Linked DNA regions of Homo sapiens: region 1 is linked to region 2. Evidence: fine-mapped expression QTL. A gene starts in region 2. The other region holds a variant in brackets. All regions are shown on one strand. Distances are between the middles of the regions. Region 1 overlaps MS4A14 (membrane spanning 4-domains A14). Region 2 holds the start of MS4A1 (membrane spanning 4-domains A1).

Region 1 (15,645 bases), 48 kb after region 2:
TACTTTTCATTTCTGACTTAAGACAGTAGATAGGAAATAACATCTAAATGAGAAGGCAGAAAACGAATGCCAGTCCTGCCTTTACCATTAACTTATTGGTATTATTTTAGAAGTCATCACCTTTTAGTCTTTCAAATATTGAACAGAGGAATTTGATTAAGATTGCCTCAAAAATTCCTCCCATACTTAATATTATAAAGCTTCTGAGACATTTTATATCATCTAGTCAATATTCATATATTCATGCTTAATCTATAATAGTTTATTGATCACCCAGATGAACTAAATGCTGGGAATCAAAGACAATTAGATGTGGGATTTTCCCTTAAGGTGCTCACAACTATCTGTACATCAACATATAAATAGATAATAGTAATACAATTCAGCAAATGCAATTACATAAATAGGTACTTAGTGCTTTATGGGAACATAGAAGATGACCTAATTCTGAGACAACCTGGAAATGCTTTACAGAAGAGGCAATATTTAATCTATATCTTAACAGCTGAGTAGGAATTACTCAGGCATAGACGGTAAGATGAAATAAGACAGGAGTCAGAATCCAGGTAGAAGCAGCAGTGGAATAGCGGGTACAAAAACACAAGGTTGTGATATAGCATGGTGTGATGGCAGATGGTAAGCAGTTAGATATTACTGATATTATTAGATGGTATGCTAGGCTAGGAAATTTGGACTTTCCTTTACAAATAAGAGGAAGCAATTGGAGTTTTTTAAACAGCTAAGTGACCACATCTGATACAACCTGCAATGCTTCCCATTAGTTCTCATTTTATTATTATAATTTTTAGGAGGTTGTTACTGCAGCACAACCTGCTGCTTTTTATTCTGACTCCATGAATTACACCTTTCTGAGATAATTCATAGTCAGAATAGACTACTTGTTCTATTTGATGAAGTGGATCAGAACTCAGTGATTAAATGAATTAATTATGCTTACCTCGTTTGCTAATAGCAGGCCTAGATTGAGAATCTACACATTCTCTGAAATAATACATTGCATTTCCCATTCTTCTAATTAGTTTTTCACACCTATATTTTATCCCTATTGAAGGACTATTTATGTGAGTATAAATGGTACTTTGGAAGAGATTTCTATATTTCTAAGAATCCTCAAACTTTGTTTCATGTGAATTTTAATTTATTCTTCCACTTAAAAAGAGGTTTGGAAGAAATAATTATAGTTTCTCTGTTTATTAAAGCTCTTAAGTGCTATGATTTTAAATTTCCTCATCCATTAATGAGAACTCAGTGATTACCAGATGCTAGACAATGTTCCAAAGTCATCACAAAAATTGGTATGACATCCCTATGAAGTTATTATCCTTCTTTTAGAATTGAGGGAATTGAGGTTCAGAGATGTTAAATAACCAGACCAGTATCGTAGAGCTGTTTACTTGGGAAGGATTTAAAAATTGTAGTTGAATCTGAGGTCCTGTGCTTTCCTCTCTGATCTATGCTTCTTGTATTAATAACGTCACCTACTTCCTACTTCAGGGTGGCTAAGACTAAAGACCAAATGAAATAATACTTTCAAGCACAGAAACTGGCACAGAGAAATTTCTCCGTAAATGTAGAGTTCACTTTCCCTTTCCTTTTCTTGAGATCAAGGTACATATTTTATTATTTTTGAATCCCCTGTTGTACTTTGCACATTACTGTGCCATTAGTGGATTAAAGATCTGTATTCACTAAATTCAATTGAAGAGTTATTTAGTGTAACTTATTTTAGTATTGTTTCTAAAGGGCTTAAAACAGGGTTTGTACTCTCCTCTAGTTGTGTAATATACAGATAATACGATAAAGATGAAAGCATGAGATGAAAAATGACAAAAGCCAATACCCATTCATGATTTTAAAAAATCTGCGCAACAGGGTAAATTTACTCTGTAAAAAACCTACAAAAAACATCATATTTAAGGGTAAAATATTGAACATTTTCACCCTAAGATCAAGAACAAGGAAAGATTGCTATTTTCATCACTTATTTTAAACATTGTATTGGAGACTACACAGTGTAATAGGGCAAGAAAAATGAGGCATAAAGTTTGGGAGTAAAAATGTCTTTATTAATACTTAAAATGGTTATCTACTAAGAAAATTCTAGAAACTCTATTAAAAAAAAGCTATGGGAACTAATAAGTTAGTTTAGAAAGGTCATAGTAGACCAGTATATAAAAATAAATTGCATTTCTATATGTGGGAATGAACATTTAAAAAATAAAATTAAAAATACCATGTACAATATCAAGAAAAAATGAAATAATTACAGATACATTTAACAAAGTATGCATAAGGCTTATACATTGTAAATAATAAAATAGTGCTGAGAGAAATGAAATGAGATGTAAGAAAATACAGACATGTTTCATGGACATGGATCAGAAGACTACATATTACTAAGAAGTAAATTGTTTATAAATTATCTATAGGCTCAGTACAATTCCAACCAAAATCCCAGCAAGATTTTTGTAGCAATCAATAAACGAATTCTAAAACTTATGTGGAAATTCATATGACCTAGAACAGCCAAAACAATTTTGAAAAATAACAAAGTTGGAAGATTTATACTATCTGATTTCAAGAATTACTCTAGCATAATTTTAGTGGGGCAGAAGAGAAATCTCCATAGAGAATTGAAAAACAATAGAGAAAATCAATGAACCCAAATGTTGATTCTTTTAAAAGATCAACAAAATTGATAAACCTTTACCTATACTGAAAAGCAAAAAGACAATAAAACAATTAAAACAAGACATAAAAGTAAGACATTATTACTGACCTTATAGAGAGTAAAAGTATAAAGTATTGTAAAAGAATACTATAAAAACTTATATGCCAAGAAATCAGATACTGTATAAGAAATGGGCAAATTCCTTGCAACACACAAATTACCTAAAATGATTCAAGAAGAAATAGAAAATCTTTACAGATCCATAACAAGTAAAAAGATTCGTAATCTAAAAGTTCCTAACAAAGGAAACTTCTGGATCAGATGGCTTCACCAGTGAATTCTACCAAAATTTAAAGAAAAAAAAAAAACAATTATTCTCAAACTCTTCTGAAAACTTGAAGAGAAGGGAAAATTGCCTAACTCATTCTATGAGGCCACCATTACCTTGATACCAAAAACAGATAATTATGCTGCAAGAAAAGAAAATTACAGATTAATATCCTTTATAAGTGTAGATACAAAAATTGCCAACAAAATATTAGAAAAGGATTATTCATATGATGAAGTGAAATTGATAAGCAAAATACAAGGATGGTACAATAAGAAAATCAATAAATGTAATACATTACATTAATATAATGTTGGAAAACCCCCACACAGTCATCTCACTTGGAGTAGAAAAGGCATTTGATGAAATGCCTTTCATGAGAAAACCTCTCATAAAACTAGGAAGAGATGGAAAATTCCTCAATATGTAAAGTTTATTTATAAAACACCCACAGCTAATATCATACTCAGTGGTGAAAGATTAAAAGCTTTCCCCCTAAGATCAGGAACTATATAAGAATGCTTTCTTTCACTGCTGCTATTAAATATTGTACTAAAAGTTCTAGCTAGAGCTATTAGAAAATAAAAAGAAATAAAATTCATCCAAATTAGAAAAGAGGAGATTAAGGCCATCTGTATTTCCAGATGACATGATCTTCCTATATAGAAAATCCTCCCAAATCCACAGGAAAGCTACTAGACCTAATACAGGATTGCAACAAGGTTCAAGATACAAGAGCAACCCACAAAAAATCATTGTTGTTTCTGTATAACAGCAATAAACAATATGAAAATAACATTTAAAAAGCAATTTCATTTATAATGCCACCTAAAATAATTACATACTTTAGAATAAATCTAACCAATGGGATGAAAGACCTCTATGCTAAAAAATATAAATCATTGCTGAATGTAATTGGAGACCTAAATAAATGAAAAGACATCTTGTGTTCA[C/T]GTATAAGAAGATTTAAAATTGTTAAGATGTCAGTGCTGCTCAAAGCAATATACAGATTCAATACAATTTCTATCAAAATTCCAACAGTCTTTTTCTTATAAATGGAAAAATGGATCCTCAAGTTCATATTGAATTTTAAGAGGCCCTGAATAGCCAAAACAATAATGAAAAAGAATAATACAGTTTGAGTGATTATACTTTCCAACTTTGAAACGTACTGTAAAGCTACACTAATTAAAACAATACAGGGCCGGGCACAGTGGCTCATGCCTGTAATCCTAGCACTTTGGGAGGCCGAGGCGGGTGGATCACCTGAGGTCAGGAGCTCGAGATGAGCCTGGCCAATGTGGTGAAACCTCGTCTCTACTAAAAATACAAAAATTAGCCTGGCATGGTGGCATGCGCCTATAGTCCCAGCTACTTAGGAGGCCGAGGCAGAAGAATTGCTTGAACCCGGGAGGCAGAGTTTGCAGTGAGCTGAGATCTCACCACTGCACTCCAGCCTGGGTGACAGAGCAAGACTCCATCAAAACAAAAAACAAAAAACAAACAAAAAAAAAAACCCAAAAAATATGGTACCTGGCATAAGGGAAGATATATAGACCAATGGAATCATTCAGAAATAAATGCTCACTTATATCACATATATAGTAAATCAATTTTCAACATAGACACCAAGAATATTCAATGGGGAAAGGAATTTTTTCAACATATGATGCTGGAATAACTGGGCATCCACATGTGAAAGAATAGAGTTGGACCCTTACCTTATACCATATACAAACATTAACTCAAAATCAATCCGACACTAAGCCTAAGAGCTAAAACCATACATTTCATGGAAAAAAGTTGGAAGATATCTTCATGACAATTTGGCAATAATTTCATGGATGTGACAAGAAAGGCACAGAAAACAACAAAATAATAGATTAATTATACTTCATAAAGAACTTTTGTGCATCAAAAGTCATCAAGAAAGTGCAAAGACAACCTACAGAATAGGAGAAAATATTTGCAAATCATATGTCTACTGAGGGACTAAGATCCAGAATATATAAAGAACTCTACAATTCAACAACAAAAAACAAACAGCCCAATTAAGAAACAGGCAAGACTATAACAGTTATTTCTCCAAAGAAGATGTATACATGGATGCTCAACATCAAATCATTAGGTAAAAGCAAATCAAAAGTATGAGATACCACTTCACACCCATTAAGATGGCCATTATATAAGGCTGGGTGTGGTGACTCATGCCTTTAATCCCAGCAGTTTGGAAGGCCAAGGTGGAAGGATGGCTTAAAGGCAGGAGTTCAAGACCAGCCCTGACAGCATAGCAAGACCTTGTCTCTACAAAAATAAAAATAAAAATAAAAATTTATGTGGGTGTGGTGGCACATGCCTTTCATCCCAGGTACTCAGGAGACTGAAACAGGAGAATCATTTAAGCCCAGGAGTTTGAGGCTGCAGTGAGCTATGATCTTGTGCCACTGTAGCCTAAGTGACATATGATCTTGTGCCACTGTAGCCTAAGTGACATAGTCTTTGTATAAAAATTAAAGAAAGAAAGAAAAAGAAAGAAAGAAAGAAGGAAAGAAGGAAAGAAAGAAAGAAAAAAGATGGCCATGATAAAAACAAATATGATCCAGAAATCCCATTACAGGGTATATATTCAAAGGAAATGAAGACAGTTGGAGAAACATCTGTACTCCCATATTTACTGCAGTGCTATTCACAAGAGCCAAGATAAGGAATCAACCTAAATGCCTATCTACACATAAATGAATAAAGAAAATGTAATATATATATATATAAAATATACATTATATATTACATATATATAATGTACACACACACACAAACAATAGAATACTATTCAGCCATAAAACAGAATGTAATTCTGTCATTTGTGGCAACATGCATTAACCTGGAGGACATTATATTAAGTGAAATAAGCCAGGCTGAGAAAGACAAACACTGCATGATCTCACACACATTTGGAATCTAAAAAAGTTGACTTCATGGAAGTGAAGACTAGAATAGTGGTTACCAGAGGCTAGGGAAGGTAGGGAGGATGGGAGGACCGGGAAGGATTGGTCAATGGGTATAAAATTCTAGACAGGAAGAGTAAGTTCTTACTTACTATAGATAGTAAGAATAAGTTCTATACTTAGTAGCATGACTATAGCAAATTACAACGTAGTGTATATTTCCAGGTGACTAGAAGAGAAAATTTGGAATGTCATCACTACAAAGAAATGATGTTTAAAGTGATGAATGTGGTAATTACCATGATTTGATCATTAGAAAATGTAACATGCATTGAAGCATCACACTGTACCCCATAAATATGTACAATTATGTGTCAATCATAAATTGAAAATTAAAAATAAATGGAAAATAATTACTCCCCCTTTTCCCCTGTTGGTTGGTATTGATGGAGATGTGGAGAAATTGGAATCCTTGTACACTGCTAGTGGAAATGTAAGATGGTGCAACGAAGGTGAAAAACAATTTGGCATTTTCTCAAAACATTAAACACAGAACTCCATATAAGCCAGCAATTTCGCTCTTAGGTATGTATCCAAAAGAATTGAAAACAGGGACTTGAGCAGATATTTTTACACCAATGTTCGTAACAGCATTATTCACAATATGCAAAAGGCAGAAATATCTGTGTCCATCAACAAATTAATGGCTAAGCAAAATATGGTATATACACAAAATGGAATTTTATTTAGTCATAGAAGGAATGAAATTTTGATATATGCTACAACATGGATTAATCTTGAAAATATTATGCTTACTCAAATAAGCCAGTTAGAGAAGGACAAATATTGTAAGATTCCACTTATATGAGGTCTCTAGAAAAGGCAAATTCATAATATAGAAAGTAGGATAGAGGGTACCAGGGGCAATCAGGAGGGGAATCGGGGAGTGATTGTTTTGTGGTACAGAGTTTGTGTTGGGGATGATGAAAAATTTTGGGGCATAGATAGTGGTGAGAGTTACACAACATTATTAATGTATTCAATGATTTGAACAAATGACTAAAATGATAACTATTATGTTATATATATTTCACCACAATGCAAAAGAATTACTCTAAAGACACAGAAATGAAGAGAGTGTAGAATACGTGGAAGGATAGACGTAGTGGCCAGAGGGAAAAAGTATCCAAAAGAGACCTACAAATAAATAATAAGTAAATTGATTTTCAACAAAAATACCAAGGTGATGGAGGAAAGCATTGCATTTTCAACAAATGGCGTTAACAACTGGATATCTCCATGAGGGGGGATGTGCATTAACTTCTAACCTTACCCTACAACTGTACATGAAAGTTAAGATAGACCATACATCTAAACACAAAAGCTAAAATTATAAAACTTCTGTAGGAAAAGATAGAAGAAAACCTTCATGATTTGGGGGTAGGGAAAACCTGTTAAACAGAACACAAAAACCATAACCATAAAAGCAAAAATGATAAATGGAACTTCATCAAATTTGTTTTTTTCAAAGAAGCTATTAAGAAAATGAAAAGGCAAGTCACAGTGTGAAAAAATATTTGTAAAGGATTTGTATTAAGAATTAATTAGGCTGCTATAAGGCCAATAAGAAGATAATCCAATAAAATTCAGCTAAATATTTGAACAGACATCTCAAAAGAAGATACACAAATGGATAATAAACATATAGCAAGAGTGTCATCATCATTAGTCATTAGGGAAATGTAAATTAAAACTACAATGAGGTGCCACTACATACCCACTAAAATAGCTAAATTATTAATAAACTGACAGTTTCAAGTGTTAATGATATGGAGCAACTGTCCCTCTCACACATTGTTGATGAGAATGAAAAGCAATACAGCCACTTTGACAAACTGTTTGGTATTTTCTTATAAAGTTAAACATCTGGTTACCATACGATCTCGCAATCAAATCCTAGATGCAACACTCCAGGAGAAGTGAAAATATGTCCACACAAATATATGAACTCAAATATTCTTAGTAACTTATGATAATAGTTCAGAACTTTAAACAATCTAAATACCCATCAAAAGGTAAATGGACTGGGCGCAGTGGCGCACACCTGTAATCCCAGAACTTTGGAAGGTCATGGTGGGTGTATCACTTGAGCCAAGGAGTTTGAGAGCAGCCTGGGCAACGTGGCAAAACCCTATTTCTACAAAAAAAATACAAAAAAAATTTAGCTGGGGGTGGTGGCGCATGCTTGCAGTCCCAGCTATTTGGGAGGCTGAGGTGGAAAGGTTGCTTGAGTCCAGGAGATTGAGGCTGCAGTGAGCCGAGACAGTGCCACTGCATTCCAGCCTGGGTCATAGAGTGAGGTCTCGACTCAAAAAAAAAAAAAAAAAAAAAAAAAAGGTAAATTGATAAACAAATTGTGGTGTACCCATACATAAAGGGAATGAATTCTTGATAGAGGCAACAGCATGGATGACTCTCAAAAACATATTTCTGTGTGGAAGAAGCCATATAAGCCATATACAGAGAGTACTTACTTATGATTCCATGAATATGAAATTTTGGAAAGTCAAAACCAATCTAGGTGATGAGAACATTGACTACAAAGGGGTTCCAGTGAACCTTCCGGGATGCTAGGAATGCACTATACCTTGATTGTGATGGTAGCTAAACATAGGTACATTTTGTTGTTTATAAATGATACTTCTATAAAGTTGATGTAAAAAAAAGAGAGAGCTAGAGAGAGAAATGAAATCTCCATAAATCACAAGGCCTGTACTGGTATTTGGGACTTAGTGAGCAGGCTCTGGAGACATATCACAGGGGTCAGAATCCTGATGTTATGTGGTACTGGAGAGGTTAGTTTAGCCTCTTTGTGCCTTACTTCCTTCATATGTAAAATAAAGATGTTATAATAGTTTTGTTAAGATTAAGTTGGTGCTCAGTGATTATAACAGTGACTGACATAGTCAGAATTCAGTAAATATAATCTATAACAATTATTATAAATACTATGTAGTATCAGTAGTAACAGCTTTTTTTCCTATTTCTTTTGTGGTGGTGGAACTGTGTCACACATCTTATGATCCAAGAATATACACCCCATGTCACAGTAATTTGGGTTCCTGTTAAGTCTGATATTACATATTTTTGGCAGAGACATAAGGAGCTATGTCTTAACAGAGATGACTGAGTATAAAGCAGATAGTACAAGAAAGGAAAGCATAGTTGTTTCAGATGGTGGGGTGAGCTTCAATCTTAAGCTTGCCCCTCTCTGACCTTCCTAAATTTAGATGTTTTATTTCAGCATCTGAGCATGCTGCTTTTCCTACTAATAAATCAGACATCATTGTGTGCAGTATCCCAACAGGAACAGGAACCTGTTCTCTTAATAATATTAAGAGACATCAGAACACACCTCATCTGACTGTGTCCAGCACTTGCTTCTAAAGGATGCAATAGTCACAGAGATGCTGAGCTCTGCTATGCTGATGATCAGTAAGATTAACAAAATTCCCTGCAAATAATGAGGAGAAATAAATGGTATTTGAAATGAGAGCTGTTATTTTAAATATATAAGCTGAGAACCCCTTACACTCTATCACCAAGTATGGGAAACCCATATTTTGGATGGTTCTGTAGCCATCAGACACTGCACAATTTTCATCTTGTGTCTTTCTGATGAGGCAGGGATAACAAACTCCAATGTCCATGGGAGCTGGGCAGTCATTGTGAACTAAACAGGGAAAGAGTAGAGAGTAATAGTATTCATAGGAGGCATCCATTACTCAATTCCAGCCAATTGCTGTCATGTGGGAACATGGATACCATAATGCCTATTTTGTTTGTTTTTCCCTAAAGAGCCAGATAGAACATATATACAGGCTGGATATAGCCCACAGATTGCCATTTTGCCCATTTTGCTTTAAGGTAATGTTTATATTGAGAAGTAACATGGTACCTTATGGTGTCTCAAAAGTTTAAACTATGAAGACAGAAAGACCTGAGTTACAGTGAGTCCAAGGTTGGCCGGGCGCGGTGGCTCACGCCTGTAATCCCAGCACTTTGGGAGGCCAAGGCAGGAGGATTAACTGAGGTTGGGAGTTTGCGACCAGCCTGACCAACATGGAGAAACCCCGTCTCTACTAAAAATACAAAATTAGCTGGGCCTGGTGGTGCATGCCTGTAATCCCAGCTACTCGGGAGGCTGAGGCAGGAGAATTGCTTGAACCTAGGAGGCGGAGGTTGTGGTGAGCCGAGATTGTGCCATTGCACTCCAAACCTGGGCAACAAGAGCAAAACTCCATCTCAAAAAAAAAAAAAAGTGGGTCCAAAGTCCCACTTAACCTTGAACAAATAACTGTGTGTTTCTGAATCTTGGTTTCCCTGCAATACACCCAAAATCTTAAATATTCAATATTTGTTGGTAAAACTGAAATGTATGAAGACCCTATTGTATGCAATTTACTGACTTTCTCCATTGAACAAGATATACCTGGTCTTGGATTTTGTAGAACTTACATCATGGTAAGGGAGGCAGACAATAACAAGTAATTAGATAATTATTTACCTAACTAAATTGTGATAAATGCTGTGAAGAAGGATTGGGAGCTATGCGCTACTCTAATGGGGGATCTATGCAGATATGAGCATAGAGGTGAGGTCAGGAAGAACTTCCTTAAAGAAGTGGTATTTCAGTTGAGATTTAAGTATGAGGATGAGTTAATTGTATAACTGGCCTGGTGACGGTTCAAAGCCGGAAGAAGCTGATCCTCTGATCATCTTGGGGCCGTGGATACTTGACACATTAAGGGATTATAGGAAGTGGCTGGAGTGTGGAGGAGTGAGAAGGATGAAGTCCTGGAATAATGTTGGAAAGATAGGTAGGATAGGTGTTACAGGGTTTGGTAAGGCTGTTAAGATTTGGGTCTTAATCATCATACGTTTTACAGGAAGCCATTAAGTAATGGCTCAGATTTACATTTTTAAATGATTACTCTAGCCACAGTATAGACAATAGATTGGTCTTTAGGACAGGGGTCAGCCCAAGAGACATCTAAAGCCCACTGTTCTGGCTCTTTTAGCTTATGATGTTTGGGTTACAGCAAGAAATTGTTAAGTTATGTAAGTGAGAACTAGGAAGAGATTGTTCATGGTTCTGTATGCAGGTAACTAATCTTGCAATACCCATCCATGGACAGCAGGAAATACGGAATTTCATATATCTGGAGATTTAACCCTTTCGGGTATATACAAGTTCTTCCTCGTATATACGAACATAACAAACAGTAGTTGCCTCCTGTCCATTCAGCAATGGCCAAGAATTATAATGTTGTATCATGTTCTTGGCCCAGTTAGGACAGGGTTTTATCGCTTATGTTGTTTTCTGGCTTTCTTTAGTAATCTATCATGAGTCTAATTTTAGAATTTATCTCAGAACACATGAGAGAGTCCCTGGGACCATTTCACTGAGTGATTGTGAGGATTAAATTACCTCTTGTATTCAGGAACTAACTTCTCATTTCTTATTTACTGAGGAAGACCATTTTCTGTGATTCCACTTTATTTCCCTTCTAACGGATTCAAATATTCTTCAAATTATAGAACCCATGCTTCAAGATATAGCTGGTAGGAATAAAATAAAACCCCAGGACTTGCTTAGGGAACTAGAGAGAAAGGCCTATTGGAGTCACTGACATGCTTAAAAATAATGTCACTGATTACTTGTTAGATAAATACTTTAAATTGCACAGACAACTACATTTCCTGGTAAAAGATCTCTCATCTGCTTTAATGAATAAAATTGCCACAATTATGTGAAATAATGTATGTCTTAAGCTTATAAAAATCCTTATTTTTTTAAATGACTTCTAAATACCTTCCCCCACTGTATTTTGATCTCAGTGTTATTGAGCAAACTTTTAGATCATTTTGTTCATTAATGCTGAAACAGTAAAATTTAATTCAATCTATGGCCATAATAATTGTATTAGCTAAACCTACTGACTATTTAACTGTGCAAGGTACTGTTTTAATTTAAGCAATCCTCACAACAACCCATGAGGTAAGCATTCTCATTATGTTCATTTTCCACTTGAGGAAAACCGAAGCTTAGAGAGAATACAATATTAGGCCAAGGTGACAAGCTTGTGTGAACAGGATTCAAGTCCAGAAAATATCGCTCCTTAACCATTGTAACAGTAACCCCATGGTACCCTTCTCAACCGTCAGTTCAAATGCTGACACAACTTCATTTAATAAAATAAAAATCAGTGAATCATTACATCATGGACACAGTTCAGAGAAGATTTTAGGGATTCTTCATGCAAAATAAGACCACTTACAATGAAAAGAGTTCTACTGAAAACACATATTTCTTCAAAGGATGGCATCTGGCAGTACTTGTCTTGATGTCTGTAGCTGAGAATGGTGAAAGTAATCCCAGTTATCGCAACCAAGGAGCTGATAACATTCATGCCCGTGACACCTTGACCCTGAAAGATAGTTTAAAAATGATAAAATAAATAAGATCGAAACCAAAGCAAAAATATCTTGTAAGAAATTTTTAGTGCTTTTATCTTTCCAGATACTTCTCAGGGAAGAGTTGTTCCATCAGGTCAGTATGATTGGAAGGCTTAATAAACTAAATTCTAACTCATTAAAGTCAGAAGACAAACCAAGTTTTAGAATGGGCTAAGGATGCTCTATGGCTAATGCTAAAGAAAATGTTCATTTTATCCCATTTTATCTCATTTTATCACCACCATCTTTCATAATCTGGAAGCAGTACAATGTGTTAGCAAATATCTTTGCTTGGAAATGAAACCTCATTTCAAGTCCAAGTTTCACTAGGACCTTAGGCAAGTAACCTAATCTCCTGGAATCTCAATTTCTGCCTTTAAAAATGTGAATGTGTCACCTAACTTTTAGGGTAGTATCCATTTATTCATTTATTTCATAAATATTTAATGTGCACCAGATACATGTGAGTACTGCATTAGGCCCTGGAGAAACAAAAATGAACAAAAGAGGTGACATCCTGCAATCATGTGGTTTACAGTCATTCCCTGGGAGAATTCAAGCAATAATCAACAGAATCGTTAACATTTAAAGATGTTAACCTATTTGGACTGGAGTTTAAAGGTGTTTTTTCTTGAACTCATTGTTGCAATAAAAATATTTCACACTGCCCCACCCAATTCCCTTTATTCATTCTTATTTTTTTGGAGGGGGGTGTGGGTGGGTGGGGTAGGTATATCCGAGTTCCTTTACAGGAAGGGGGTCATCTGATTTCTTCCTTCTTACCCACTCCCAGGACTGATATCACTCTTTTAAAGGAAAAACAAAGAAAAGCTTCACATTTCCATTCATCAGGTATTTGCTGTACCTTTATTGATTGTGTTATGACTACCGTGGTGGAAAATACAATGATGCCTTTACACAGCCAGTCCTTTCTGGAAGTTTGTGGCTTGGTGTGGCAAACCTCAGAAGTGTACTTGTGACTTAATGTTTACCTCAATCCCAGGTTTTTATTGCAAATAGGCACTTTGGCAGAAAATGCACAGGAACATATAGATAGGCCATCTCTCTCTTGGTCTTTAGTCCCCTTGTTTTCTCAAGGCTCTATTTTGGCTCCCATAGGACATTTTATAGACTAAGATCTCTAGATAATCAATCCCTCATGTGTATTGGGCTTTACAAAGAACATGCCCAGCCTAGTCTCTTCTGATTCTCATTATACTTTTGTGCTGTAGGAAGGACACTTGTTGTTATCCACATTTTACAGATAAATGGAATTAAGGAAGTAAGTGACTGTGAGCAATCACTTTCACGGTTTGTGGAAGGGCTGTGATGAAAAGCCAGGTCTTCTGATGCCTGGTTCAGCATCCTGCCTCCATCATTCCTGCACACCTCCATCTGCATAGCTCTCAGTGAGTCAGGAGTAGGTTTTCCTTACCCATAGTTTATTTCTCAGCTCTGGAAGGAAGTCAATACAGGGAGAACAGCATTTGGGGCTTCATCTGCATTGTCTGCATGTATTTCCATAAGCAGGGATGGAAACATTTATCTGCCCTCCCCTCAGAATGTCTCTATGCCTTGTAACTATCCCTAGAGGAAACTGGCAGAGGACCATAAGAACAGAGTTCAACTGACTTTCAGAGAGGCCCACATCCCCAGGACCTTAAACAAGATCAGAGTGGTTAGAAAGGAGTATGAACATTTAAGCATCATCTTGCCTTTTATCAGTAATGTCTCATTAAACTCTCAAAATAACCCTTAGAAGTAGGCACTTTTCCCTTCAGGTTAACACAGAAGTGAGTGATAGCCTTGGTTCAATCCTAGAACAATCCAGCATTGATGCCCAAACTCTTTCTTCCAGACCTTGGGCAGGATCTAAAGAAAAGCCTCGGTTGGTATTGGAGATAGGGCTAGGATTGGGAGGAAGAATTAGTGAGAGCTTAGGATTGGTTTTGGTTAGAGCAAGGTTTCTCAACCTTGGTACTATAAACATTTTTTGTTGGATAATTTTTGTGTTGGGGGGAGGCTGCCTTGTGCATTTTAGATGCTTAGAAATGTCCCTGGCCTCTACTCACTTGTTGCCAATAACACCAGTTGTAATGACCAAAAATGTCTTCAGATGTTGTCCAATATTTCTGGGTCCTGGGGGGTGCAGGGCAGGGAATTACCCCTAATTACAAACAATGAATTACAGGGATGCAGAATGGTTTCCAATAAACAACTCTTTTAGTTTACTTGACCAGGGAAATGGGAACAAGTGTAAGAATGTCTGTCAGGCAAACAGTGGCACTGGCAAATAGGAATGATCTGAACTGCAACTTTGATGCATACAGATTTTCCTGAAAGGTAACTTTATTACTAAAGGCTTCATACATAAAGATGATATAAAACAAATAGAAGATTTTAAATTTTATGTAGTTTAAGTGGCTTACCAGAAGTTTTGATTTCTTATCGGTTACTGTGAGGTATCCTGTAAGAATAAACTGTTAAGAAGACAAGAGACAAAAGTTAACAGGTGATGTGTTTGACCACCTTGCAGTATAATTTCCCTTGGATTTGCAAAATATCTGTTTGTGAATCTCCAAGACCATCCCGTTTTTCCACCTGAGCATCAGGGAGTAGGGAAGGTAGGCGTAGGTAGGGTAGGAAGAAACTTTGTGCTGGATTTGCTCAGCACTGAACAAGCGCTCTCTGCCAGGGCCAACTGGGACAGGCAGGCTCCTCTAAGATCCAGAGGACCAGATGTTTGATCCGGCTGGGGCTCCAAAAAGAGATTCCTGAGCTCTGGGCCTTGAAGAGAAGAGGAGGAGCTGTGCCTGTTCTGAGCAGGTGAAGGGAGACTTTCTCAAGGAAGACCCCTCTAAAGGCTGATATGGGGACTGATATCTAGTGTAGTTATCAGAGTCCCTCATTTCCCATGATCGTAGAGCCTAGTACCACCTCAGGAAAATGAGAACTCTGTCACTCCATGTGGAGTCCCTTACTTTTTTAATGTTCTGGGGATGGGAACCTTCTCTGTGGGAACTGGCCTTGGACCTTGGGGACATCTGGGTCTTAGAGTCCAAGGATCTGCAGCTGACTTGCAGAGATCAGAAAGTTACCTTTGATACCTCCCTCCGCTTCACTCCCCACATTGGATTGCCAAGTCCTGTCACTTCTACCTC
Region 2 (17,055 bases):
GGCTGTAGAATGGAGGAAACTCTTGTTCTAACCCATCTCTACTTGTTTGGAAAATTTTAATCCTGGACTTATCTTTTATAGTGGCAACTATGAAAAGTATCACGGGGAAATAAACATCACTGTCCTATGTGCCACACCCAGACAGGGTTACAGATTTGGAAAACATGTACGTAAAACAGCCAAAAGAGTGCTGCTCTGTCGATAAGCAAAATGAGACTGACTTGTGATGGGACAGGTTTCACCAGGTACCATAGTAACCAAACAGAATTGTAAGCAAGAAGGGGTAGATGGAAGTGGATGTTCCTGCTGCCTCTTGCTTTCCAAAACATCTTGCTATCTAGTCTAAATGTCTAGGGCCACCCTCCCCACCAGAACTGACTTTGGAGAGTTCTTGCTTTGGACAGTCCCTGTGAGATCCATGCAGGGCCCCTTTCTCTGAATTCACATGAAACAGGACCACTGACTCTCAACCATGGGATTTATACTCAATTTGGTCAACCTGTCTTCTTAATTACTTTAACCCAATAATATTTCCTACTCATATATTTCCCTCAACACAGAAATAATCTGGCATATCCCTGTGGAGCCTTTTAACATTTTTGTCTGCACCATTTCCCAAATGGCTGCTATTCTTTTACTCACCATAATGCCTCCCCAGAGAGGGTACCACACAGTCACACAGATGGGTGCATAGATCCCTGCTGGGATCATCAGAAGACCCCCCAGGGCAATGTGGAAGAGCCCATTCATAATCTGGACAGCCTGGGGAGAGAACAGAGGCAGCAGTGGATGAGCTGAAATCATCACTGCTAGCAGGCAAAGACAAGGTTGGAAGCTCTGGCTCCTGACTTGGAGCTGTGAGGAATGCCTAAAGGAAGCAGTGGAGGTGCCAAGAATTTTGTCTTTTTCTTGTTCGAATCTGTTTCCTCAACCACATGGGGCATTTCCAGGGAGCAGGTATGCCTGGGATTCTGGCAATGGACTGGGATGGGGGACCCCTGCATATACAAGCCCCAAAACCAAAAGGTGACATAAGATCACCCAGAGGTGATCTAAGTGATAACTTCTCTGATGCACCCCTGATTTGGCCCACTGTGTTAGACATAAAGAAGACATCAGGTTGGATCCCAATTCTTCAAATTGGATTGAATTCTGTATGTGGCCTATACCGCATCAGCTTCTGTCAGCCAGAGAATCCCTACGACATGGGATGGAAGGCAACTGACTTACCCCCAAAGTCTTAGATTCCCTCATGAAGAAGCTTTGCGTGGGGCCCACCAGTGAAGACATCCTCCTGAAGAGTGGTTTTGGACCAGATTGCATAGCAATAGGGCCTTTCATTGGCTCTGCCGGGAAAGTCCCATTTACTGAATTTCTGGGTGTTGTCATTTTGCTCTCAAAACTCCTAAAAATAAAACAAATAACAAAATGAGGAGAGCAAGAACAAGATTTTTGGCAGTCTTACCTTGTGTCATGCATCTGAATGCTTCTCTCAGCATTTCCTCCATGAGTGTCATTGAGGGTAGACATGGCCTCTTCCGAGTGACCTTGGATCTGAGGCAAGGCCTACTGCTGAGTTCTGAGAAAGGAGATGGAGGGGTTGTTTAGGAAGAGCATGTGGGCCCAGGAGTCCCTGCCAGTGATCTTGACAACTGGGTTTGGGGCATTCTTTATCTTTGTAGAGGACACCTTGCATATATGACTGCATGTCCTCTTTGTTTCTTATTCCTGGATGCTTTTCTTTTGCTTTAATATTGAAAAATGTATTTTCAATGGACTTGTCCTTGTCCTTTTGCTTATCTGCCTTTGTGCATTATGATGGGCCAGAGGCAACATTGCAGAGTATGGTAAGGACTATCTGTAGAAGCAGGAGGGGTCGATTCCAGGCCTCTCTCTGTCTCTAACTCTGCCACCTTGTGCAAGTCACATCAAGAAGGCTCTCTAGGTCGGGCACGGTGGCTCATGCCTGTAATCCAAGCACTTTGGGAGGCCAAGATGGGCAGATCACCTGAGGTCAGGAGTTTGAGACCGGGCTGGCTAACGTGGCAAAACCCCATCTCTACTACAAATACAAAAATTAGCCAGGCATGTTGGTGTGCACCTGTAATCCCAGCTACTCGGGAGGCTAAGGCAGGAGAATTGCTTGAACCCAGGAGGCAGAGGTTGCAGTGAGCTGAGATCATGCCACTGCATTCCAGCCTGGGTAACAGAGTGAGACTCGGTCTCAAAGAAAAAGAAAAGGCTCTCTAAGGCTTTCTAATGCAGTATATAAGACTGTGGCCTCCTGAGTCAGATTGCCTAGGTTTCAATAGTGATTCCTCCATTTGTTCTGAGATGTTGGGCAAGTTCTTTAAATTCTCTGGGCCTCAGGTTCAACTGTAAAATTGAAATAATAATAATTCTTATCTCGTGGGCTGCTATAACACTTAACTGGGCTCATGGTCTGTGCATGGCTAGTGTCTTTTTGTTCAGGTGTAGCTCAAATGTCAGCTCCTAGAGGAGCCTACCTTGAACCCTCAATCTATAACATGTACTCCTATTTGCTGTCTTTTACAAAATCCTATCTTAATTGCTTTACGGCATTGATCACTGTAGGAAATTACCTTATTTATTTAATTGCTTATTGTCAGTCTCTTCCCCACAGAATGGAAGTTCCATCAAAGTAGAGATTTTGTTCTCTCTTGTTCAGGATCTAAAATAATTTTTGGATTTAGTTACTTCTTAATAAATATTATTGAAGAAATAAATGTATGCAAAGAACCCATGTTGGAATAAATAGTTATTTTTGTTGCTATTCTTGTTCTTTGTACTTTGCTGAGCATTAGTTTCGATTTTATCCTTCTGTAAAGTTAGAACAGTACCCCTCTCTGAGATGTAAGACATAAATAAGTTAACATATGTAATTGTGCCTAGGACAAAGGGAGAGTGTAGTAAATGCTATTTATCAGTTTTCATGATTTATTCATTTCTGAAGTGAGAAGGCAATTAATACGGCCCTTTCCAGCTCAGACATTTTAAGATTCTGTTCAATCTTCATCTTGGGTTTCCTTAGCATTCACTTGTTCATGTTAACCACTTATGCGGACTCCACTGGGTCTTTCCTGGAATCTGAAAATCCCTCTTTTGGGGACACATCTTTGCTCTTGTCTTTATTGCTTGTAAGTCATGTAAGATGTCTTGGAAATCAAGACTGTCTATCCAGGTCACATATCTTACTGAAGCCGGTGCCACATCCCAGCCATTAGACCACAGCCTGAAGTATATCTTACTGAAGTCAATCAGAGCTGAGTAGCTGCAGGTGTGCTGTAAAACAGGCAGCTGACTACTGTCACATTTATACCTACTTTAGGGCTGGAAGTAAATTTGACACATGGCATCTCATCTGAGCCTTATAGAACAGGCAAGGGGTGAATCATCACCTGTGTTTTATAGAAGAGGAAACAAGGGCACGGAGAAGCTAGGTTACTTGTGCCAAGTTACATAATTAGTAAATATTTTTTGTTTGTTTGTTTGTTTTCATGACAGGGCCTCGCTCTGTCGCCCAGGCTGCAGTGCAGTGTCATGATCACAGCTCACTGCAGCCTCTACCTCCTGGGCTCAGGTGATCCTTCTGCCTCAGCCACTGGAGTAGCTGGGACCACGGGCAACCACCACCATACTCAGCTAATTTTTATATTTTTTTTAGAGATGGGGTCTTGCCATGTTGCCCAGGCTGGTCTTGAACTCCTGGACTCAAGCAATCTGCCCCCCTCCACCTCCCAAAGTGCTAGGATAACAGCTGTGAGCCACCATGCCCAGCCTGTAAAGATTTAAAATGAAGACTTGGATCTCTCAAATTAGGCATCCAGGGTACCAGGCTGCTTTGTCTCCTGTGAGAAATAGGAATTCAGCCTTTCCCTTATGACCCCTCTTTTCTCCTTCCAATATATGCACTATGTGAATGACTATAAATCAGTTGAAAAGTATTATCTGTCTGGCGCATGGGCTAGAGGAAAGAGAGAAGAAACTTTGGTTGTTTCTCACTTGATTTTGCCCCTGCCCTAGATAGCCAGATGCCACATGGTCCTGGGGATCTGCTTTGTACAACAAGCCACTCTACAAGACCTCTAACAAAAACAGATATTTTAATATAGCCCACTAAAGAGTTTGCGGACTGATTCTGGTCACTAGGTAGGATTTCTAGAGCTAGTCCAAACCTCAGAAACCATTCTGTTCATTTCACAAATGAGGAAGCTGCAGTCTGGGTATAGAATTTGCCTTAGTAAAGACCTCACAGTTAGCAACAGAGCCAAGCTAGAAGGCACTCACCATGGCTCTGATGTTGATGCTTTTTCTGCTGTACCATAGGTGAGTCCAGATAATTATAGTTGTTTACTGAGCACCTACTATATACTAGAGATATTGTATATGGTATTGCCAACTCACTCAACACCTTCGTAAGTAGGCATTTTGACTACTTTCTGCAGATGAAGAAATGGAGGTTGAGAGAGGTTATTTTTCCCAAGGTCCTATGGCAAGTATGGAATGAGCTGGGAGTCACTACACTCCGCCCCAGAGGGGTAACTTTAGTGAAGATAACTTAAAATGCAAAGGTCATCAATTGTTTGAACTGAAGGAGATGATTGGACTGCCATTGTTTTAATTTCATTTTATTCATCAACTGCTTGATTAAAGCTGTGTCTGTATTATTGGCGAGATAAACTTTTTTGTAAGCCAATTCTACTTGGGCTATGCCTGTTGTAACTAATGGCAATAATGACCATGAGGGCTGTGTGTGTGTGTGTGTGATATTTCTCTGTTAAAATGGTATCTCATGGTGGCAACTATACTTCTACAAACCTTAAACAAATATTTGTATAAAATAGTAGTTTATAAAGAAACACATGAGTGCTTTCTCTGTTTTTTTATTTCTTATGGAAACTATCTTTCATATATATATCTGATTATATATATATCTGTCTCATATATGAGAGGTAAATATATTAATCGATTTATGGCATTGTGGGCTGACTGTAATGAAAAGCTTTCGTTCCATGAGAATTCATAAATACATAAAACTCGCCTACGGAGATTGGAGATTCTCGCAATTTTGCCTTATCATTAAAATAAATTGTTCACAATGACTTAGTGCCCAATGCACAGTTATGCTCAAAGACTAGTTGGTAGATTAGTAGGGGTTATGGACCACATTAGCCGCAATATGATAACAATAAGATTTTACATTTGCTGGTGTCCAAATCAGCATGAATGTTAAAATAGAGACTCAGGTGATCACTCAGTACCGCATTTAATTACTCACACTAACTCCTGCAAATATTTTTTTATTTTTAAAGGCACCCCTGTTTTCATGTCCATCCACTGAATAAGATCTCACAGCCTTTATGGGTTTTGGTTTGAATAGACTTTTAAGTCCACTCGTACCATCATGTACTGAGAAGTTTAAAAACTGCCTCACTGTTGTTACCTCATCTTCATTCTCTTCCACTCAAAATAGTTTTGCATTTTTATCCCTTCTGGCCTCCTGTGCACCTATCTCCGAGGAAGAGTGCTCTTACTTCCCTTCCCTCTGTGCTTTTCAGCCCATCTCAGTCCAACCAAGCTGTTAGCCCTTCCAAGAAATTATTTCTTCTTTGCACCTTCAGTCTCCCAATTTCTGGCAATATGTAGCAGACAGAGTTAGTCCCAGCTCTCTTGCTTGCTCCTCTTGTGGTCTCTCTGTAAGTTTAAGGTAATAGTTACCTTCCCCATTTCAAAGTATCATTTTGAGAATATGAGATAAGTTGCATTTGTTAAGGTGCTAAATACTCCTTTTATGACTAAAATGTACTTCAGTGTCCCTGAATCCCAAAGTCCTCTTCTTTTAATCTAGCAATGTCCTTGCCCACTGCCCAGGCTCACTTTTTCTTCACCGCAGCTGCTTCAAAGCTTTGCTACCCACTCTCTTCCCCCACCTCCTCTCCACCCACTCACTTCTCAATGCTTGGCAACTAGTTTCCGCCAGTCAGTGGACTGAAACTGGTCTTTGAGGACTGTGCTGTGAAGTCAGTGGTCTTTTCTCAGGCCTCGTGTCTCAGATTGTTTTATTTGTTTCTCCTGCCACCCAGGCTTAGATAGTTGGGACCACATTTCACTTTAGCTCCATCATCTCTCAGTCCATCTTCATCTTGGCTGTTGGTCAGTCAGTGGCCAAGTCATGCCATTTCTACCTCTGCAATACATTTTGCATGTGGGTCTTTTTTCTATATCCAGAGTCACCTGTGAGTTTCTCATTTCCATTCATGCTTTTCTGCCTTCAGTCTTTCTCTTTTCTAATCCATTGTCCACAAGGCTGCTACATCAAGCTCCCGATCACTGTTTTGAGTGATGCTCTTCCTGAGCCTGAACTCCTTTGCTGGCCTGTCATTACCTGCTGGAGAAACCCTTCATCTAACCCCTCAAGGCCTTTGGAATTCAGCCCTGTATGACTTCCCAAGCTCATATCCCACTACCGCCACCAGAGCCACTGGTCTATACATGTCCTCTACCTTCTTTCCTGAATCTTCTCAACTTTGAAGTGTTCCTTCTCCCTCCCTCTTTACTTTCAATCAAACTCTGCATTAGATATGCACATCACCTGAGGGCGTTCCTGCTCTCCTTGCCTGATTGCAAGGAATTCTTCAGAGCTCCTAGCTCTTTGCTTTCCTTACTAGACATCAACTACTTTCTTCGGAGAATCCTGTATCCTACTAGACTTGCATAGGGAACCTGTTTTCTATGTACTATGAGCTCAGTTACATTAAGCTGAACATCAAACTCAGCTACTTCCTCAGGGAAGCTTAACAAGTGCTCACAATGGCCAGGTGCAGTGGCTCACACCTGTAATCCCAGCACTTTGGGAAGCCGAGGCAGGTGGATCCCCTGAGGTCGGGAGCTCGAGACCAGCCTGGCCAACATGGAGAAACCTTGTCTCCACTAAAAAATGAACAAACAAACAAAACACACACACAAAAATGCTCACAATGCTGGATTAAACATTTCTTTCCACCGGATTCTCAGTGAGATTAAGCCATTTTATGGGAAACAGGGAAAGGGAATCACTTATATACTGGATTCAGAAAACAGTAATGGCATGATTAAAATTAATCCTTGTTTTCCTTCATTAGAGCTCCCCCACATCTGCAGCGCCCCCTCTTACTCTTGGTTTCCCATGTGATAGATTTGAGGCAGGATTTCATGCTCAACTTGGTGTCCACAAATCCCCTCCAGAAAATGTTAGCCTGTAAAGCCACCTATACTTCTAGGTATATTTACATTTAATGTAGACAAAAGCATTTACAGGAAGACAAATGGAGTTTTTTTCATTATGCCTATGACTGATTATTTTCTCATTTGGTATTGGGAAGTCCTAAGGGATTCAGGATTTTAGTTCCAATTTTCCTAATGTAATGGGTACCATTGCCCCCATTTTATAGATGAGGAAGCTGAGGCTTTAGAGGTTTAGTAATTTGCCCAAGGTTATATTGTTTGTTAGTGGTAGAGCTCCAGTTTGAACCCAATGGTTTAGAAACCATGATTTAATATATATGCTGCAATCTACTACTTTTGTGGAATGATTCACAGTTGACTGCATAGGGTAATTGTTGAGAGGGAGACTGATTAGAGGAGTGAGTGGGCAGCAAGCCTTGATATCGTCACCCCTCCTTAAGTCATAGAACTATTAGGAAGTCTGACTAGGGAAACTCTAGAATTAAGATCAAGAACCTCCAGTCTTCAAAACCATTCTATACCTTATCCATCACCTCCTTTAAGTCATTTAAAGAAAGCAAATTGATTCCTTACCTGAGTCTCCAAGGCCTCAAATCTCAAGGGCTGATTTGGATGCTAGCTGCGGAGTTCAGTGGGTGCAGTTTGTTTCTCAAGCACACTGGGAGGGTGAGTGGTGTAGTCCAGGCCTGAAGATGAAATCGCTGATAGACATCAGGTGACAGGAAATCAGTAGCTTCTGCTACCTTGGGCTTCGCTCCAATTACTTTGGTTTAACACTTACCATAGCTGAAGGAGGTGCAAAAAAAGTTTCTGCCTTACCAGGTTTCACTTCTTGAAAAAGACCCCAGGGGACTGCCTGGCATGCTCATGCTACCTTAATTAGAAGAACTTCTGCAGCCCCCACCCTATAAGCAGGTGTGGATGGTAGGTCCCTGAGGACAAGAAAGATTCTAGAAGTTGGTCAAAGATGGGCCGTTAGCACTGACTTTTACCTTCTGGCTTCACTTTTAGGGCTGAGTAGGTGGGCAGGAGGCATCCATGCAGAGATTCAAGAATCACTGAGGCTGTACACTTGGCAGCACTATACTTAGGGGTCCCCAAATATTGTCCTCATTGGCTCACACTTAAGTTTCTTATGAACCATGTATATATCTTGTGTCAGATTTAGCAGAAATGGCCTAAAATTATACTTTAGTGCCATAGTACATGTACCCAGCCACTCAAAGCAAGAATTAGCCTCCATATTTGGAAATATAAATTGAAATAGCACTTTTACCTCTGAACCCACCTTTTTCTTCTGTCTGTCAAGTTCCCTTGTGTCCCCTCTCTTTTTAGTCTAGTCTGGAGCTGCAGGGTCATCAAGCACAGTACTAGATCAAGTAGGGAAATGGAAGAAGTTGGTAGTGTCAGGAGAGTCTAAATATTTGGGATGTGAATCAAAGTTTTGCCCAAAGATAATGTCCTCTCTCTCCCCCTACAATATTCAACTTTTATGTTCATATGTGGGATTTTTAATTACATTTTTATTTCCCTGTTCATTGCTTCATTTTATTAGAGACACAGAGCTATAGTTAGGTAATTATTTGTTTATTTAATCTAAAGGGATGAAATATGGCAGGCAGCTCTGTTGCCTAATTCGAGGTTCATTCCTGTCTCTCTCTTTCATCTCTTCTCTCTTTCTCTTTCTGCCTCTCTTTTTAAATTTAAGATAGTTTGGAACCATAGGGTTAGATCCACTGGGTAGAAGTAGTTCTGGGGAGGCTGATTGTGGTGTGATATTTAAAAAGATGCCACTCTAAAAAAAAAAATTGTTGGAGCCGTTCATTAGGGGAACTGGCTACCATTTCAATAGAGAATTTACTTCTTCAAGAATACTCAAGTAAAGTCATGCAGTCACCTCTCAGAGATGCTGTAGAGTGAAGGAGAGTGGGAACAGAAGATCCATCATCCATTTAACATTCTAATTGAGGGTCTATGCATATCTGCTGAAATGCTTGAGTGATTGGTGATGGGAGGACAATTACCTAGGGTCTGAGTTGTGGATGATTGTGAAACCTGAGGTTTGAGTCCTGGATGGTGGGGTGGTTAGAGGCATGTGCCTTCATTTTAGTTGGCATGGGAACAGGGTCAGGACTTGGCAAATGTATGGCAGCAAAGGGGCTTGAGTTGTGGCAGCACAACCTGGTCTTTTGCATCCTTTTCTCTGTTTGAGCCCTGTATTTCCCCAGTCAGTCTCAGGTTGTTTGCTACTTTGTGGCCAATGAGATAACTTAGGTGGCTCTATGTATGATTCTTCCCAAATAAACTTGAATTTGAATTTGTATGAATGCATAAACATTTACCTTGTCTTTGCTCATTTGAATGATCAACATTTTAGTGCTTGAGTGTGTTGAAATTCTCACTACAATTTGGACTTGTCAATAGCATCTTATTTGATGTATCACCATCACTCTTCCCCCAAGGTTTGAGAATATTTTATTAGGTTGATAACATATTTAAAATATTTCTCTTTGAATTAAGCCTATTTTCATTATCTAGTGACCTTGCTTCCAAAAGACAATCTTAAAGTCTACATAAAAGTATGCCAACTTTTATTTAGTTAGTATTTTCCTGATGTGAATTTCCTTTTTATTCTCTGCACGTCCCAGCACTCCAATTTTTTTAATCATTGCCTTCTATATGAAAACTGTGTGCTACATCATAATTATTTGTGTCCTTGCCTTAATCAGCCATTGTCTCCTTGTCCCTTGAAGGCAGGGTCAGTTTTTGTGATTGCTGTGTCCCTGGCAGTGCTGAGAAGGAATGGTTCTGTTTGGCTTTTTCTTTCACCCAGGTGATTGTCCCCAGGCTCTCCAATATTAGGAAGTAACATTATGCCACGTTCTCAACTTCTCAGCAAGGCCCTGGCACCCAGAATTATCTGCTGTTGGAGGGTTCTGGTGTCAAAGAATTGGTAAGGGAGACATAGGGCTCGTCAGAGGTGAGGCTAAAGATCTAATTGCAAATAGAACTTGGTTACAGGTCAGAAAATCCCATTGTTGCACTTATAAATAATTCATAGTAAGGAAAATGTAAATTGAAATACTTAAGAACTTTATAGTTGATAGGGTCTTCTTTCTCTTCTAAGGGACTATACATTTGGAACAGCTAGGAAGGTAATATTAGTTAAATAATTCCTTTTATGTCAAGAATTGTCCACATATAAGCCTTACCACACATATAATATTGATTCTGTTTTATAATTGTGGAAACTAAATTTCAGGAAATGGAGGAAGCCATTCCCAAGTTGGAAAGCTGGTAAATGGTAAAATAAGTGATGTTTAGAGCAAGAAAATCTCAATTATAAATTTCAAAAACTAGCATTTACTAAGTGATTTTTAAGTTCCAGGCACTGATAAACTCACTTTCCATGTTTCATTTAAGGTTCACAGTAAACCCATTAGGTAGGTATTACTATTATTGCATTCTAGTCTAAAAATTTTAAGCCCGCAAAGATTAATTTGTTCAAGTGACACAGCTTTAAATGGCAAAACATTTATTATTATTCGTTTTAAGATATAAAAATGTCTGATGTACTCCCATGTGCAGATTACTGGATCACTCCCTTTGCTTTTGTGACGTGGGAATATAGCTGAAGAAAAAAATGCAATTATGACCTCATAGTTATTGAAAAGAGTTTTTTCTCTTATGTACCAATAAATATGCTATCATTGGAGATGAAGTGTTACTGATATGTAACGGTAACATTTTTCTGCAGGTGTTGACTATAAAAATATCATTATGTGATAAAAAATTTAATGAAAATAAGATGTTGTTTTGCTTTCTCAATTATATTTCTCAAAAAATTAAATAATATGTATGAAAAAGTACTTATAACAGTGAGACAAGAAACCATGTGCCCACAGCCATGATTAGAGATACAAGAGTGTCACTGATACCTTTGAAAGCTCTCAGGTTATCCTTCCCCAAGCCACCCTCTTTATCAGAGCTCACAATTATGCTGAATTTGGTGTTTATCACTCTCTTCCTTTTCATTGTATTTTGACTTTCCACATATGCTTACATTTCACACGGACATATTGCTTAGTTTTTGTGTTTTCTTTTTTTTTTTAATTTATTTATTTTTTATTGATAATTCTTGGGTGTTTCTCACAGAGGGGGATTTGGCAGGGTCATAGGACAATAGTGGAGGGAAGGTCAGCAGATAAACAAGTGAACAAAGGTCTCTGGTTTTCCTAGGCAGAGGACCCCGCGGCCTTCCGCAGTGTTTGTGTCCCTGGGTACTTGAGATTAGGGAGTGGTGATGACTCTTAACGAGCATGCTGCCTTCAAGCATCTGTTTAACAAAGCACACCTTGCACCGCCCTTAATCCATTGAACCCTGAGTGGACAGAGCACATGTTTCAGAGAGCACAGCGTTGGGGGTAAGGTCACAGATCAACAGGATCCCAAGGCAGAAGTTTTCTTAGTACAGAACAAAATGAAAAGTCTCCCATGTCTACTTCTTTCTACACAGACACGGCAACCATCCGATTTCTCAATCTTTTCCCCACCTTTCCCGCCTTTCTATTCCACAAAGCCGCCATTGTCATCCTGGCCCGTTCTCAATGAGCTGTTGGGCACACCTCCCAGACGGGGTGGTGGCCGGGCAGAGGGGCTCCTCACTTCCCAGTAGGGGCGGCTGGGCAGAGGCGCCCCTCACCTCCCGGGTGGGGCGGCTGGCCGGGCGGGGGGCTGACCCCCCCACCTCCCTCCCGGACTGGGCGGCTGGCCTGGCGGGGGGCTGACCCCCCCACCTCCCTCCCGGATGGGGCGGCTGGCCGGGCAGAGGGGCTCCTCACTTCCCAGTAGGAGCGGCCGGGCAGAGGCGCCCCTCACCTCCCGGACGGGGCGGCTGGCCGGGCGGGGGGCTGACCCCCCACCTCCCTCCCGGATGGGGCGGCTGGCCTGGCGGGGGACTGACCCCCCCACCTCCCTCCCGGACGGGGTGGCTGCCGGGAGACGCTCCTCACTTCCCAGACGGGGTGGCTGCCGGGCGGAGAGGCTCCTCACTTCTCAGACGGGGCGGCTGCCGGGCGGAGGGGCTCCTCACTTCTCAGATGGGGCGGCCGGGCAGAGATGCTCCTCACCACCCAGACGGGGTCGCGGCCGGGCAGAGGTGCTCCTCACATCCCAGACGGGTCGGCGGGGCAGAGGCGCTCCCACATCTCAGACGATGGGCGGCCGGGCAGAGACGCTCCTCACTTCCTAGATGTGATGGCGGCTGGGAAGAGGTGCTCCTCACTTCCTAGATGGGATGGCGTCCGGGCGGAGACGCTCCTCACTTTCCAGACTGGGCAGCCAGGCAGAGGGGCTCCTCACATCCCAGACGATGGGCGGCCAGGCAGAGACGCTCCTCACTTCCCAGACGGGATGGCAGCCGGGCAGAGGCTGCAATCTCGGCACTTCGGGAGGCCAAGGCAGGCGGCTGGGAGGTGGAGGTTGTAGCGAGCCGAGATCACGCCACTGCACTCCAGCCTGGGCACCATTGAGCACTGAGTGAACGAGATTCCGTCTGCAATCCCGGCACCTCGGGAGGCCGAGGCTGGCGGATCACTTGCGGTTAGGGGCTGGAGACCGGCCTGGCCAACACAGCGAAACCCCGTCTCCACCAAAACCAGTCAGGCGTGGCGGCGCGAGCCTGCAATCGCAGGCACTCGGCAGGCTGAGTCAGGAGAATCAGGCAGGGAGGTTGCAGTAAGCCGAGATGGCAGCAGTACAGTCCAGCTTCGGCTCAGCATGAGAGGGAGACTGCGGGGAGAGGGAGAGGGAGAGGGAGAGAGCAGTTTTTGTGTTTTCTAATCATTATTTAGGTAGAATTAATAAGATGTTCTTTTGTGACTTGCTTTCTTTACTCAACATTAAATGTGTATAATTCATCTTTGTTGATTTGCTTCAAGTAATTTATTTTTACCAATATGTGGTCCTCCAGTAGGGAACATGGTACAATTGATCTGTTCTCTGTCCATGGACATTTGAGGTATTGCAGGCAATCCTGCTCTGGAAACATTCGTACGTGTCATATGTTGCACATGTACAAGGATTTCTCTTGCGTATATTAACTAGCAGTGGAATTGTTGGGTTATAAAGTATGTGTATCTTTACCTTTACTAGGGAATAGTTTTTAAAGTGGTTGTCTTCATTTACACTCATACCATTGTGGTAGGAGAGTTCCTTTCATTCCACAATTGCTTAAGAAATTGAGTGCTTTTCATATATTAACCTTTGTTTCTGTCTCCTGTGAAATGGCTGTGCATGGCTTTGGACTAAGTTTTCATCAAGTTGTATTTTTCTATTAATGTATAGGAGGATTTTATATATTCTATATCCCATTATTTTTGTTGGTTATTTGTGTTGCTAAAAGGCTTTGATTTGTAGCTGCTCTCGTCACACTTATGTAACATTCTTAATAACGACTAAATGGGTTGTATCAGTTCTTGCTGGTACTATTCATGTTCTGGGATCTGTTTAAGAAATTCTTTACTACCTTGACTTTGTAAAGAAGTCTTCTATCTTTATTTCTAATAATTTTAACATTTCTTCTTTGTTTTTTAAATTTTATTTTAGGTTCAGGGTACATGTGCAGATGTGTTATATAGGTAAGTGGCATGTCACGGGGGTTTGATATACAGGTTACTTTGTCACCCAGGTAATAAGCATAGTACCCAATAGTAGTTTTTTGATCCTCACCCTCCTCCCATCCTCCACCCTCAAGTAGGCCCCAGTGCCTGTTGTTCCCTTCTTTGTGTCCATATGTACTCAATGTTTAGCTCCCACTTATAAGTGAGAACACATGCAGTATTTTCTTTTCAGTTGCTGTGTTAGTTTGCTTAGAATACTGGCCTCCAGCTTCATCTATGTTGCTGCAAAGGACATTATCTCATTCTTTTCTATGGCTATGTAGTATTCCATGGTGTATATGTACCACATTTTCTTTATCTAGTCTGCTGTTGATGGGCATTTAGGTTGATTCCACGTTTTTGCTATTGCAAATAGTGCTGCAATGAACATATACGTGCATATGTGTTTATGGTAGAACGATTTATGTTCCTTTGGGTATGTACCCAATAATGGGATTGCTGGGTTGAATAGTAATTTTGCTTTGAGTTCTTTGAGAAATTGCCAAACTGCTTTTTTTACAGTGGCAGAACTAATTTACATTCCCCCCAGAAGTGTGTAAGCATTCCCTTTTCTCCACAACTTGCATCTACTATTTTTTGACTTCAAGACAACATTTAAACCTAGTTGACTTAAAAGCCCAAGACTTTGCACCCTCAAATATATCTCAAGCCTCACACATCTGTACATCATTCAGTTGCCAAGTATTTTTCATCATAACCTAACTTCACTGAAGTAAAAAACTTACTTATTTTTCCTGCCATGTTGTATCCGTCACCTTCACAAATGCACCTATAACCTAAGCTGCTGCCAGCAAATAGTAGAAATGAAAGCCTGTTACTTCATTTTTTGAGTATGCTGAGTTTTTTTTTTCTATACCATAAACAACATAGGATAATGGGATTTGAAGTTAGGGAACTTGACTCAAATCCTCTTTCTAAATCATGCTCCTTTTGTGCTCTCAGAAAAGCTAACCACTTTGAGCTTCAATTTTTATGACTATGACAAAAGACATATCTACCCTGAGGGCTGTCAGGACAAGTGAGATGATACAGGTGAGACCTCTAATACTTAGGAGGTATTCAGCCAGTGAGAGGCAATACCATATAAGGTAGTGGTTCTCAAAGTGTGGTCTCGGATTTCCTGGGGTCCTTGAGACCTTTGTAGGTGCCCTATAAGTTCAAAACTATTTTTGTAATAATACTAAGACCTTATTTCTCTTTTCACAAGTTTACAGTAGTATACTCCATAGGCTACAGAACACGAGATATCATAACAGATTGAATGCAAAAGCTGCTAAGAGAATCCAGAGGAAAGTAGTTCCTTCCAAACTTTGCTTGGCATTGGAATTAAGACCTTGGATTCTGGAACCGGCTGCCTGTTGATACTATGGCTCTGCCATTGCAAACTTTATGACCTTGAGCAAATTACTTACCCCCTCTGTGCTTCAGTTTCCTTTTCTGTAAAATGGGTATAATAATACAATTCACCTCCTAGGACTTTTGTGAGATTAAATGAGTAACACCTATATAATACTTAGAATGATGCCTGGAATATAGTAGTGGTTCCACCAATATTTGCCTTCATTATTTTTACTATTGTTAGTATTCTAGTTGATCAGCTCTTTAACATTGATGATCTTGCAGCATTAATGTAGAATTTATGGGCCAAACCATTCCACCAACCAGCTCATCTTTCCACACACCACTGGAGTAGGAGCCACTGGGTGGAGTCTCTTAGTGAAATCAACAGGAGATGTCATCAACCAGAGAAGTTAGATGACTGGGTCACCCCAGGCCTTGGGCTTTGGTTCCTATCTTTGCAACACCACATTGCTGTCCTTTAGTTGAAATAATGCATGACTAACAGAGGTGACAACACCAAGGTGACCATTTGATTTGGGGAGAGGTGCAGATGGCATTGCCAAGAGGCAGAATGTGCTTTATCAGTCAAAATGTCCCCAGAACCCCTTCACTTGAGCCACTCCCCTTTGCTTCAAAGAGTTCCCAGCCTTAAGATTCTATGTGTCCTTTGGCTTTCCCTTACAAGCAGAAGTCATTGCTACATAATATTTTAACACATCTTTATTCTCACAGTGCTAGTCAACAACATTGTTCACAATCACAATCCTCTGAGTGGCACCCCAAAATTGAGAAAGGCAGAGAAATGAATAATTCAATAATGCTGAAAGTCATCAATGTAATCAAAATTCCCTGTAATAGAAGAAGAAGAAAAAAAAATGAAGAGTCATGATGTTGGCACAGTAACGGTTTTCCTGATTATAATGACATAGTGATGCCCAGATAATAAAAGCTTCCCCAAATATCTCAAGTGTATCTGATGCTTAGGAATCAAATCAGTGAAGGATTTTCAGAGTATGCATCTATTTAAGCATAGGATAGCATAGCATAGAATAGGATAGCATAGCATAGCATAGCCTAGGATAGCATAGCATAGTACAGCACAGCATAGGATAGCATAGCACTGCATTGCATAGCATAGCATAGCATAGCATAGCATAGCATAGCATAGCATAGCATAGCATAGCATAGCACAGCATAGGATAGCATAGCATAGCATAGCATAGGATACCATAGGATAGCATAGCATAGTATAGGATAGCATAGCATAGCATAGGATAGCATAGCATAGCATAGGATAGCATAGCATAGGATAGCATAGCATAGCATAACATAGGATAGCATAGGATAGCATAGCATAGCATAGCATAGCATAGGATAGCATAGGATAGCTAACATAGCATAGCATAGCTAGCATAGCATAGGATAGCATAGCATAGCATAGCATGGGATAGCATAGCATAGCATAGCATAGCATATTATCTTTTTAGAGAAAGGCATATAAAAATACATTTTTGATTTATATATGTAGGAAATAGTCCATTTTATAAATGCATAAAATGCAAAGAAATGCATATATAAAAGGTGGTCTAATGAAGGGGAAAGAAAGAAGGTGAAGAAACAGGAAAAAGAACTAAAAATAGAAAAGAAAAAGAGGGAAAAAAGAAAACTATTGGCTTAGTAAAAGAGAAAGCGAAAGAGACATAAGAAGCATACGCTAGTAGTTCACCGTTTTTTTGGTTTCTTTTTTGTCTTTTTTTTTTTTTTGAGACGGAGTTTCACTCTTATCAGC

The links.
Region 1: its variant is fine-mapped to the expression of MS4A1 in whole blood (TOPMed, PIP above 0.99).

Annotation. Positions count from the first base shown.
Region 1 is chr11:60,399,723-60,415,367 of GRCh38, reverse strand. It overlaps MS4A14 (membrane spanning 4-domains A14), which reads right to left. Exons shown (of 5, transcript NM_032597.5): 3 at 14,914-14,964; 4 at 12,307-12,456. Among named protein-coding and RNA genes, the nearest start is that of MS4A14, 11 kb to the right of the region's middle. The variant C/T (reference allele first, on the strand shown) is at 3,974.
Region 2 is chr11:60,446,709-60,463,763 of GRCh38, reverse strand. MS4A1 (membrane spanning 4-domains A1) reads right to left here and starts at 7,917. Exons shown (of 8, transcript NM_152866.3): 1 at 7,819-7,917; 2 at 2,604-2,692; 3 at 1,231-1,579; 4 at 643-762. The coding sequence starts at 1,389. MS4A5 (membrane spanning 4-domains A5) reads right to left here. Exons shown (of 5, transcript NM_023945.3): 5 at 15,972-16,115. The coding sequence ends at 16,005. RefSeq lists an enhancer at 5,729-5,838.